Regions from separate parts of the Homo sapiens genome. Here region 1 is linked to region 2. The links come from fine-mapping of genetic effects on gene expression. Tissue or cell type: skeletal muscle. Region 2 holds a variant in brackets; the other region holds the start of a gene. All regions are shown on one strand. Distances are between the middles of the regions.

The links. PIP is the estimated chance that this variant, and not a neighbour inherited with it, causes the effect.
Region 1: it holds the start of KIAA0930, and the variant in region 2 is fine-mapped to the expression of KIAA0930 in skeletal muscle (GTEx, PIP 0.97).

Annotation. Positions count from the first base shown.
Region 1 is chr22:45,239,080-45,243,207 of GRCh38, reverse strand. KIAA0930 reads left to right here and starts at 2,314. Exons shown (of 10, transcript NM_001009880.2): 1 at 2,314-2,568. The coding sequence starts at 2,505. RefSeq lists silencers at 1,991-2,190, 2,221-2,280, 2,441-2,500, 2,651-2,740.
Region 2 is chr22:45,191,710-45,195,709 of GRCh38, reverse strand. It overlaps KIAA0930, which reads left to right. Exons shown (of 10, transcript NM_001009880.2): 10 at 1-3,466. Among named protein-coding and RNA genes, the nearest start is that of MIR1249, 7.3 kb to the left of the region's middle. The variant C/G (reference allele first, on the strand shown) is at 1,888.

The sequences.
Region 1 (4,128 bases), 47 kb before region 2:
AGGAGAGAGCCCAAGCGATGTTTGTTTACTCATTCATTCAACAGATATTTTTCTGGCACCAGTCCTGGGCTGGGTGCCACGGGAAGTGGGATGAATTGGTTCAATGCTGGTCATATGACACAGAATACACGGAGGCAACTGTGTGCAGGAGGGTGGGGTGGGGAAAGGGGGTTTGTGAAGCAAATAAGAACACAATGCATTGGCCAAGCGTAACCAGGCAATGTGGGTCCCAAAGGCAACTACAGTTGCGGAGCAGAAAGGATTTCAGGCCAAGGGAACACTGTGGGCAAACGCATGGCAGTGGGAACAGGCAGGGGGTGCTGTGGGGTTTGGGGAGGCAAAGAGGGATGTGACTATTGGACTTGACAGCCTTGGAGCACTCGCTCATGCTGTCTGATCCACCATCCCCAGTTCTCACGTCCACCAGCCCAAACCCCAGCTCTCCAGACGCAGAACCAGAGGCCTCAGCCCTCATGCCAGTGTCCTCACTTTACAGACAGGGATGCAGGCCCACTGGAGAAGAGAAATACACGTGAGGCTGGTCGCGCACTTCCTTCATTCCCTCACTGCTCACCTTTCTACAGAGCCCTCCTGGGCCTGGCACTGGGGACACAGAGGGGTCAGATGTGGCTCTGCTCTGAAGAGTTCAGGGGCCAGTGGCACAAAACTGGGGCAGAGGCCTGAAGCAGGATCCAGATCCCATCTCCCTTCTGGGGCTCTGCCCAACCCCACGGCTCCTTCCTGCTGTGCCTCCCAGGAAGACCCCTGCGTCCCCATCAGACCTCTCCATCATTCTTCGTTTATGCAGCCTACATTTTTTTTTCTTTTCTTTTCTTTTTTTTTGGGGGGGGACAGGGTCTTGCTCTGTCTCCCAGCTTGGAGTGCAGTGGCGGGATCTCGGCTCACTGCAGCCTCCGCCTCCCAGGTTCAAGCAATTCTCCTGCCTCAGCCTCCAGAGTAGCTGGGATTACAAATGTGTGCTACCATGCCCGGCTAATTTTTGTATTTTTAGTAGAGATGGGGTTTCACCATTTTAGCCAGGCTGTTCTGGAACTCCTAACCTCAGGCAATCCACCTACCTCGGCCTCCCAAAGTGTTGGGATTACAGGCATGAGCCACTGTGCCCAGCCTGCAGCCCATATCTATTTATTGGGCATCTAATGTGTGCCAGGCAATGTTCTGGGTACTGAGACAACAGCTGTGTAGTAGACAGGCCCCTCCCTCGGTAGAGAAGAGAACAAGTGAACCCATAGGTATCCAATGTGTCGGGAGGAGGTAAGTGTCACCCTGTGAAGGAGAAACAGACTAAGGGAAGAGAGAGGGAGGGAAGGCGGTCAGGGGAGTTTCTTTGAGGATGTGACACTCGGGACACAAAGGAAGCAAGTTACACAGGAATGGGGAGAAGAGGACTCCAGACAGGGGAAAGGGGGACCTTGATGGGTCTGGGGTCCACACACAGGCTGTGAATGCAGGGAGTGATGTAGATTTAGCTTTGGAGAGACCTGGAAATCAATGCTGGTCTCTCCATCTCCCCCTGTTCTTGGAAATGGACCACCAGGCGTGAGGTTTGGGGAGGCCACTGGCTGCTTCTCCGGTGTCTTCCTGTATCAGCCACAACTAGCACACGGAGGGATGCTGGCCAGACCTGGCTTCATCAGGATGACACGCCCAGCTAACCTCATACCTCCCCCTTCATCAACACTCCCCCATGTTGGGGAGGCAAGGCAGGGAAAGGTCCCCCATGGTGCAGCTGAGGAAATGGAGGCGCAACACTCTGCACTGTGCCAGGTGCAGAGGAGGGGGGCCGGAAGGGCTTTGCCACGGTGTCCCCCAGGAGACCACCTTCTGGGAGCAGGTGACCTCTTGAGGGGTTCTGCGGAGGAAGTTCCCAGAAGTCAGCCGAGGGGACTTGGTGGAGGTGGCAACGCACAGGGCGGGTGACAAAGTACACATCCCGTGGGGTAGCAGCGGGGGAGGGGAGAGGTGCCCTGAAGGGGCGGCGGGAGGGGCTCAGAGGCGTGATCCCGTTGGTGGGGCGTTTAGGACCTTGGGTGGAGGCGGGACCCCGCGAGCGGTTTGAGGGAGGCTGTCCTGGGCATCCGAAGATTGGCGGAGACTGGCCGTTTGGAAGTGGGCGGGGCAAGGGAGGTCAGGGGGCGGGGCCAGGGAGCCGGGGTGGGTCCGGGCCGTTCAGAGGCGGGGCGGGAGGGGACAGGGGCGGGGCCGGGGCGGGGAAGGGGCGGGGCCGGACCGGGGCCGGGCCGGGCCGGGGCGGGGCGAGCGGAGCCGGGGGCGCGCGGGCGGCGGCGGCGCGGAGGTGCGCTCGCCGGTGCTGTGTTTGGCGGGTGGTGGCGGCGGCGGCGGCGACGGCGACGCGCACAGAGGCGGACTGTGGCTTCCTTGGTGCTCGCGGCGGGCTGCGGGCCGGGCCGCCCGCCCTCCCCGCCGCCGCCGCCCCCGAGCCTGCGGGCGGCGCCGAGGCCGAGGAGCGCTCGCTGCAGCACATGCTGCGTGCCATAGCGGAGGAGCGCGGCCGTCTTAGCCTGCGCCGCGAGGTCTGCGGCCTCGGTGAGTGGGACCCGGGGGCGAGGCCGGGCCGGGAGAGGTGAGCGTCTCCGGGGCCGCCTCTGCGCGTCCGTGTTTCTGTGCGCCCCGCGCATCTCTGTCTCTGCGCGGGTGTCGTGGTCTCTGGGTCTGCCTGGGTACCCTGTCTTCCTCCATGGCCCCCCCCCCACCGTCCCTGCATCTGGGTCTGTCTCTGCTTTCCGTCCGACGAGCGCCCCGCACCCCTGTGCCCGGGTCTCATTCGGCGTCTCCCCCTGTCAGTCCGTCCGGGTGTCTGTCTCATCTTCCTCCTTCTTCTTCGTGTCTCTGCGGGTCTTCTTCCTTCTCCAGGAAGCCCGCCCCGGGCCCTCAGCACCGCGGTAGGGAGTGTGGGCGTGGGATCTGGGTACACCCTTAGCCCAGCGCGGCAGGGTCGGGCCCTCGTTGGGCTCTGGGTGGACCTCGCTGCGAGCGTGCCCTGGCCACTGTCTCCTGCTACCCGAAGCCTTTGTCTTTCCGCACCCACCGGCCCCTCTCATCCCTTAGCTGTATCCAGGGACCTGTTGGGCAATGGCCCCCCGAACCCGCCCGCTTGGCTGAGGGGCAGGGCCTGCTGCCTCTCGGTGTGATTCTGGGCTTTAAGTCATGGATCTGCTGGGGGGCGTGGGATGGGGGTGCCTCGTATTGTTTGGAAGGGCCTGGGACTGCAGGTGTGGGTGGGGTCTCCCAGCCAGTGAGGTAATCCATTACTGATGGATCATGCCCAGACTGAAGCCCAGGAGAAGCCCCCTCTTTTGTCGTCTCAGGTTCGTCATTTTCTCCATGGAAAAGACCCCTCCCTCCTCCGTGCAGGGAATGACTTCATACCACATTGTCAGCCACCCCCCACCCCACCCCCAGGCTAGGCTGGGGATTTCTGAGGGGGTGACAGCATTGCTGAGTACGGAATGTCAGCCTTCCAGATTCACCCCTTCATTCACCGTTGGGGAAACTGAGTCCCAGAGAACAAGTGCATCCCCCTAAGGTCACACAGCTGCAGGGACATGGCAGTCCCAGGCATTCAGGGCCCCTCAGCAGGCCACACCCTGGAGGCTGGAGTGGAGAGAGGAAGTAAATTTGAATCCCTTTTGTAGGAGGCAGGCTTAGCATGGGAGGCTTCCCAGTGAGCAGGCCCCAGCCTAGCCTGCCCAGGCGAGCCTTTCCTCATGCAGGGGTGGGGTGGGGGGTGCTTATGAAGTGAAATGGACAAGAACTTCAATGGTTGACAAGGTTTCAATGGTTTCTTTCTGAAAAGGTGTCAAGATTTACTTTTGAGCAGAAGTTGGAGCGTGCTTATTCATTCATTCTGCAAACATTCATTGAGCACCTACTGTGTGCCACCGTGGCAGGCCCACCTGTCAGCTGGCACCGAATATCTGAGCTGGGATGCATCTGAAGGACCATCTGCTGCAGGTCACTTGGCCCTGTTTGCTCAGCAGCTTCAAGCAGTCCCTCCCCACTCCCCTGTCCACACACACCTATTGTCCTCTGACCACCTTTACCTGTGAGCACCTTCTCTCCTCTTCTAGGCAGCCCCTCCCGCAA
Region 2 (4,000 bases):
GGTTGGATGTTAGACTCCTGGGATGCCCTCCTCCCCCTCGCCCTTTGTAATAACCTAATCTGAGACCGTGCTTGGTGGGGGGATGTGAACTTTCTCTCTCCCCCAGCAGTGTCTGCTCAGGCCTGACAGCTCAGCTCTGCACGATTTCATGTTCCTAAACCCATGTCTTAGGGCAGCACAGAGCCAGGTCATGTCATGCCCCAAAGTGTGGGGACAGAGCCTCAGGGAGCCCCGAGCATGGTCCAGCCCCATTTGAGTGCTCTCCGGGGATGCCAAATGCTGCTTCCAAGTTTGAGTCCATGTGGCTAAAATACACCCATTTCTTCAGGAACTCTTCCCCTGGTTGTTCTGGGGATCTTGGGAGAAACACAGCCCTGACAGCTCGTCCGTGGGAAGATGAGGCAGTCCAGGTTGTGAGGAGCACAGCGGCCCGCCCTCTGTTCTCAGAGGTGAGGGGCGGGAGAAGGTTGTCTCCTCTGGGGCCAGCATTTGGCCAAGCTCGGAGGCTTGGCCAGCACTGCTGGATGGCTCAGAGCAAGCTGGGCTCCCCGTCTGTAAGATGGCAAAAATGCTGCCCCCCTCACAGGGTGACCATGAGGACCAGTCACAGTGATGTGTGAAAGGGCTCGCTGGTCACAGAAACGTGTACAAATCATGCTATTTTAGAGATCAGCCCTCAATTTGTAAGGCATGTGAACAGGGCACGCGGTGGGCTGGTGGTTTCATAGCCGACACACAGCGCCTACCATGTGCAGCTGCCTGTCCGACCCCATCTTACAGACGAGAAAACCAGCACACAGGCACCAAGGAACTGTCCGGAACTAACAGCAGGGGCCGGCGATGGGAGTCAAACCCAGGCACGCGGCCTGGCCTGCATGCTGAGCCACATGGTGCTGTCCGGACAGATGGACAGACACTCGGTGGAGTCTGCCTTTCTCAGGCCCTAAATCCCTCTCCAAAGGGTACTTGCGATGCCGGATTTAAAACTTGCTCAGAGCCACTTAGCCACTTGAGAACCAGACAGTAAGGTGTTACTCCCAGGTTTGTTTTTCCAAAGTAACAGATGACATGTGGAATAAAGTAATAGAGTAACAAGTGGCAGGGCCAGAACCAGGGTCCCCAAAGTCCTGGTGTTGGCACATTTGTACTTCTTGTAAGACCATCTTTAATTTTTCTGGGAACACACCTGCCTTTTGTGTAATGCGGGGAAGACTAATGCATGGTGACACCTAGTTTTCCTCAACAGGACACTTGATCCCAAAACCCCTTTAAGACCTTAGGTTTCCTCAGCGGAAAACTGTACTTTAATCCCAAACCCCCTTTAAGACATATTGGGGCTGGGCGCAGTGGCTCACGCCTGTAATCCCAGCACTTTGGGAGGCTGAGATGGGTGGATCACCTGAGATCAGGAGTTCAAGACCAGCCTGACTAACATGCTGAAACCCCATGTCTACTAAAGATAGAAAAATTAGCTGGACATGGTGGCAGGCACCTGTAATCCCAGCTACTCGGAAGGCTGAGGAAGGAGAATCACTTGAACCTAGTAGGCAGAGGTTGCAGTGAGCCGAGATCACGCCATTGCATTCTAGCCTGGGCAACGAGAGCGAAACTCTGTCTCAAAAAAAAAAAAAAAAAAAAAAAAAAAAAAAAAAAAAAAGATACATTGGTCTTTAAACCCAAACCCCCTTTAAGGCATGTTGGTCTCAAGGGGATTTGGGATTGAAGCACAGCTTTCTGTTGAGGAAACCTAGGTGTCACTTTTTAGAACATTAAAAAGAAAGTTGTAGGGTGGGCTTTTCCATTTAAAGGAATGTGATGATCCTAGGTTCTGATGAGTGATAGGTGGTCTCCGTTTATACCCTTTCTTCTTTTGGCACCTGTAAGTTC[C/G]GGTAGTGGCCATCTTACATTCTCATGTCCTGCTGGAAGTGCCTAGTTGCCTGCAAAGCCAGCTAAGGCTTATTATTTCAAAAGAAGATTATTTAAAACATGAGTGACAGGTAGTCAGAAGAGAACAAAAGGACGCAAGATACTCTATAGCCAAGTCAGCTTGGAGGCAGGATGGGTTGCTGAGTGAAGTCGCCGCTCACTTTTGGATTCTTATGGACTGTGAGTTAGTCTTCCCTCTACACGGAGTCACAGGAAGGGTATAAATGCATGTTCCTGAGGTGCCCTCCCCCAAAGAATGTACCTGCACTCAAACCAGGATCTGTTTTTGCTGTTTTAATCATAAATAGACTAGTTAGTAGAAGACTTTTGAAGAACAAAGTAAAACTTTTTTTTTTCATTAAAAGATGTCCCAGAGGAAAGGCCCTGTGCAGCCAGTATATTCTAATGACTGCCTGGACCATGTCCTAATATGGTGGTTTTAAGTTGTTGGCCAAAATCCTTTAAAGACATACGAAACATCTGCCAACTTTTTAGCGAACTTAACAGGTTTCACTGACGTTTTCCTCAATTTTTGAATTTAGGTGGGATTTGCTTTCATGTCCTGTTTCAAAAACCAAGTGTCTCTTGACAGCCCACTGGTTCTTCCTGTCCTCTTGCTCTAGTCTGTATCAGAAAGCAGAATGACTGTACTTTTGTTTTACAAACAACCACCTGATAGGACGGACACTCCACGAGATAAGGAAAGGCACGTGCCCTTGAGCTTGAATGGAAGCAGCCTCTGGAGGGGGCAGCCACTGCCCTTCGAGGGAGAGCAGCTCTTCAGCAGTGGCCAGAGTGCCACGTGACTCTGCAGATGACCCCTGGGAGCCGGGTGATGGGCACCTGCTGGGGCTTTTGTTTTTTCTTTTTCACTGGCTGGCTTGATCCTCAGTGGCAAAAGGACCCCTGAGCCCCTTCTCCGAGCCCTGGAGCACTCCTCGGGACACCGAGTGGCCTCAGGGCTGGGTTCAGAGCTCCTCCCGCAGGGGGAGCCTCAGAAGTGGAGGCAGCTGCTGATGGGTGAGTTTACAACTTCTTATCCTGCCTAAGGCGAGTAGGCGTTTTTATTCCGTTTCCAGTCCTTGAGCTCAGCAGATCAAAATAACAGTGACCCTGCAACCCCACAGAGCCCGCGACACGCTCGCTTTCTTCCCCGCCCTGCCCCTTTAGTCCCCGCTCTGGAAGGCCAGGCAGTTTAGGTGTAAATAGGTATCTTTTATGGTTTCCAAATGAATTATTTGTGTGAGAGTAATTAAATCTGTAAGAAAACCTGTTGAGATTCTTCACTATGAATTATGACTTCTACAACATGTATTTTAGCAAAAACACGATGCTGGCCTCCACTGGATAGCTCAGTATGCTGATTGCCAGTGATAGTTCTGTACGCGTTACCAACAGCGTCTTTATTAACCCTCTTCCACATCCAGTGGAAATCATTGCTAGGCGGTATTTGTTGGTTGGCTGTTAGCTTTGCTTTATGATTTCATGTTTCTTTTAAAGGTTGTTTTGCATGTTGAATATTAAATTTTTTTTTTCTGTGTCTTCCTCTAATCTTTTTCTGTAATGGGAATTTCAGGGTAAATACAGATATTATAGCAAAGCAATAATTTAATGATTGAAACTTAATTTGCCCCCAGTGATTCCTGAAACTTTTTTTGGAGCTTTCACACAAACTACTTTTTTGAACTAGAGTGTGTTGGAGGCAGAGAAAAATCACCCTGTGTGCTGGCTTTGCCTGCCGTGAGCCAGTGAGGAGTCCGAGAAGAGGTGGGCAGGTCAGTGATGGGTTTGGCCAGAGATGCCATATTTGCAGTATTAAATCATTTCAAGATGCATTTCAAGGCCTGGCACGGCTCACGCCTGTAATCCCAGTGCTTTGGGAGGCCGAGGCGGGCAGATCACTTGAGGTCAGGAGTTCGAGACCAGCCTGGCCAACATATGGTGAAACCCCCATCTCTACTAAAAATACAAAAATTAACCGGGCGTGGTGATGTGCACCTGTAGTCTCAGCTACTTGGGAGGCTGAGGCAGGAGAATCGCTTCAACCCAGGAGGCAGAGGTTGCAGTGAGCCAA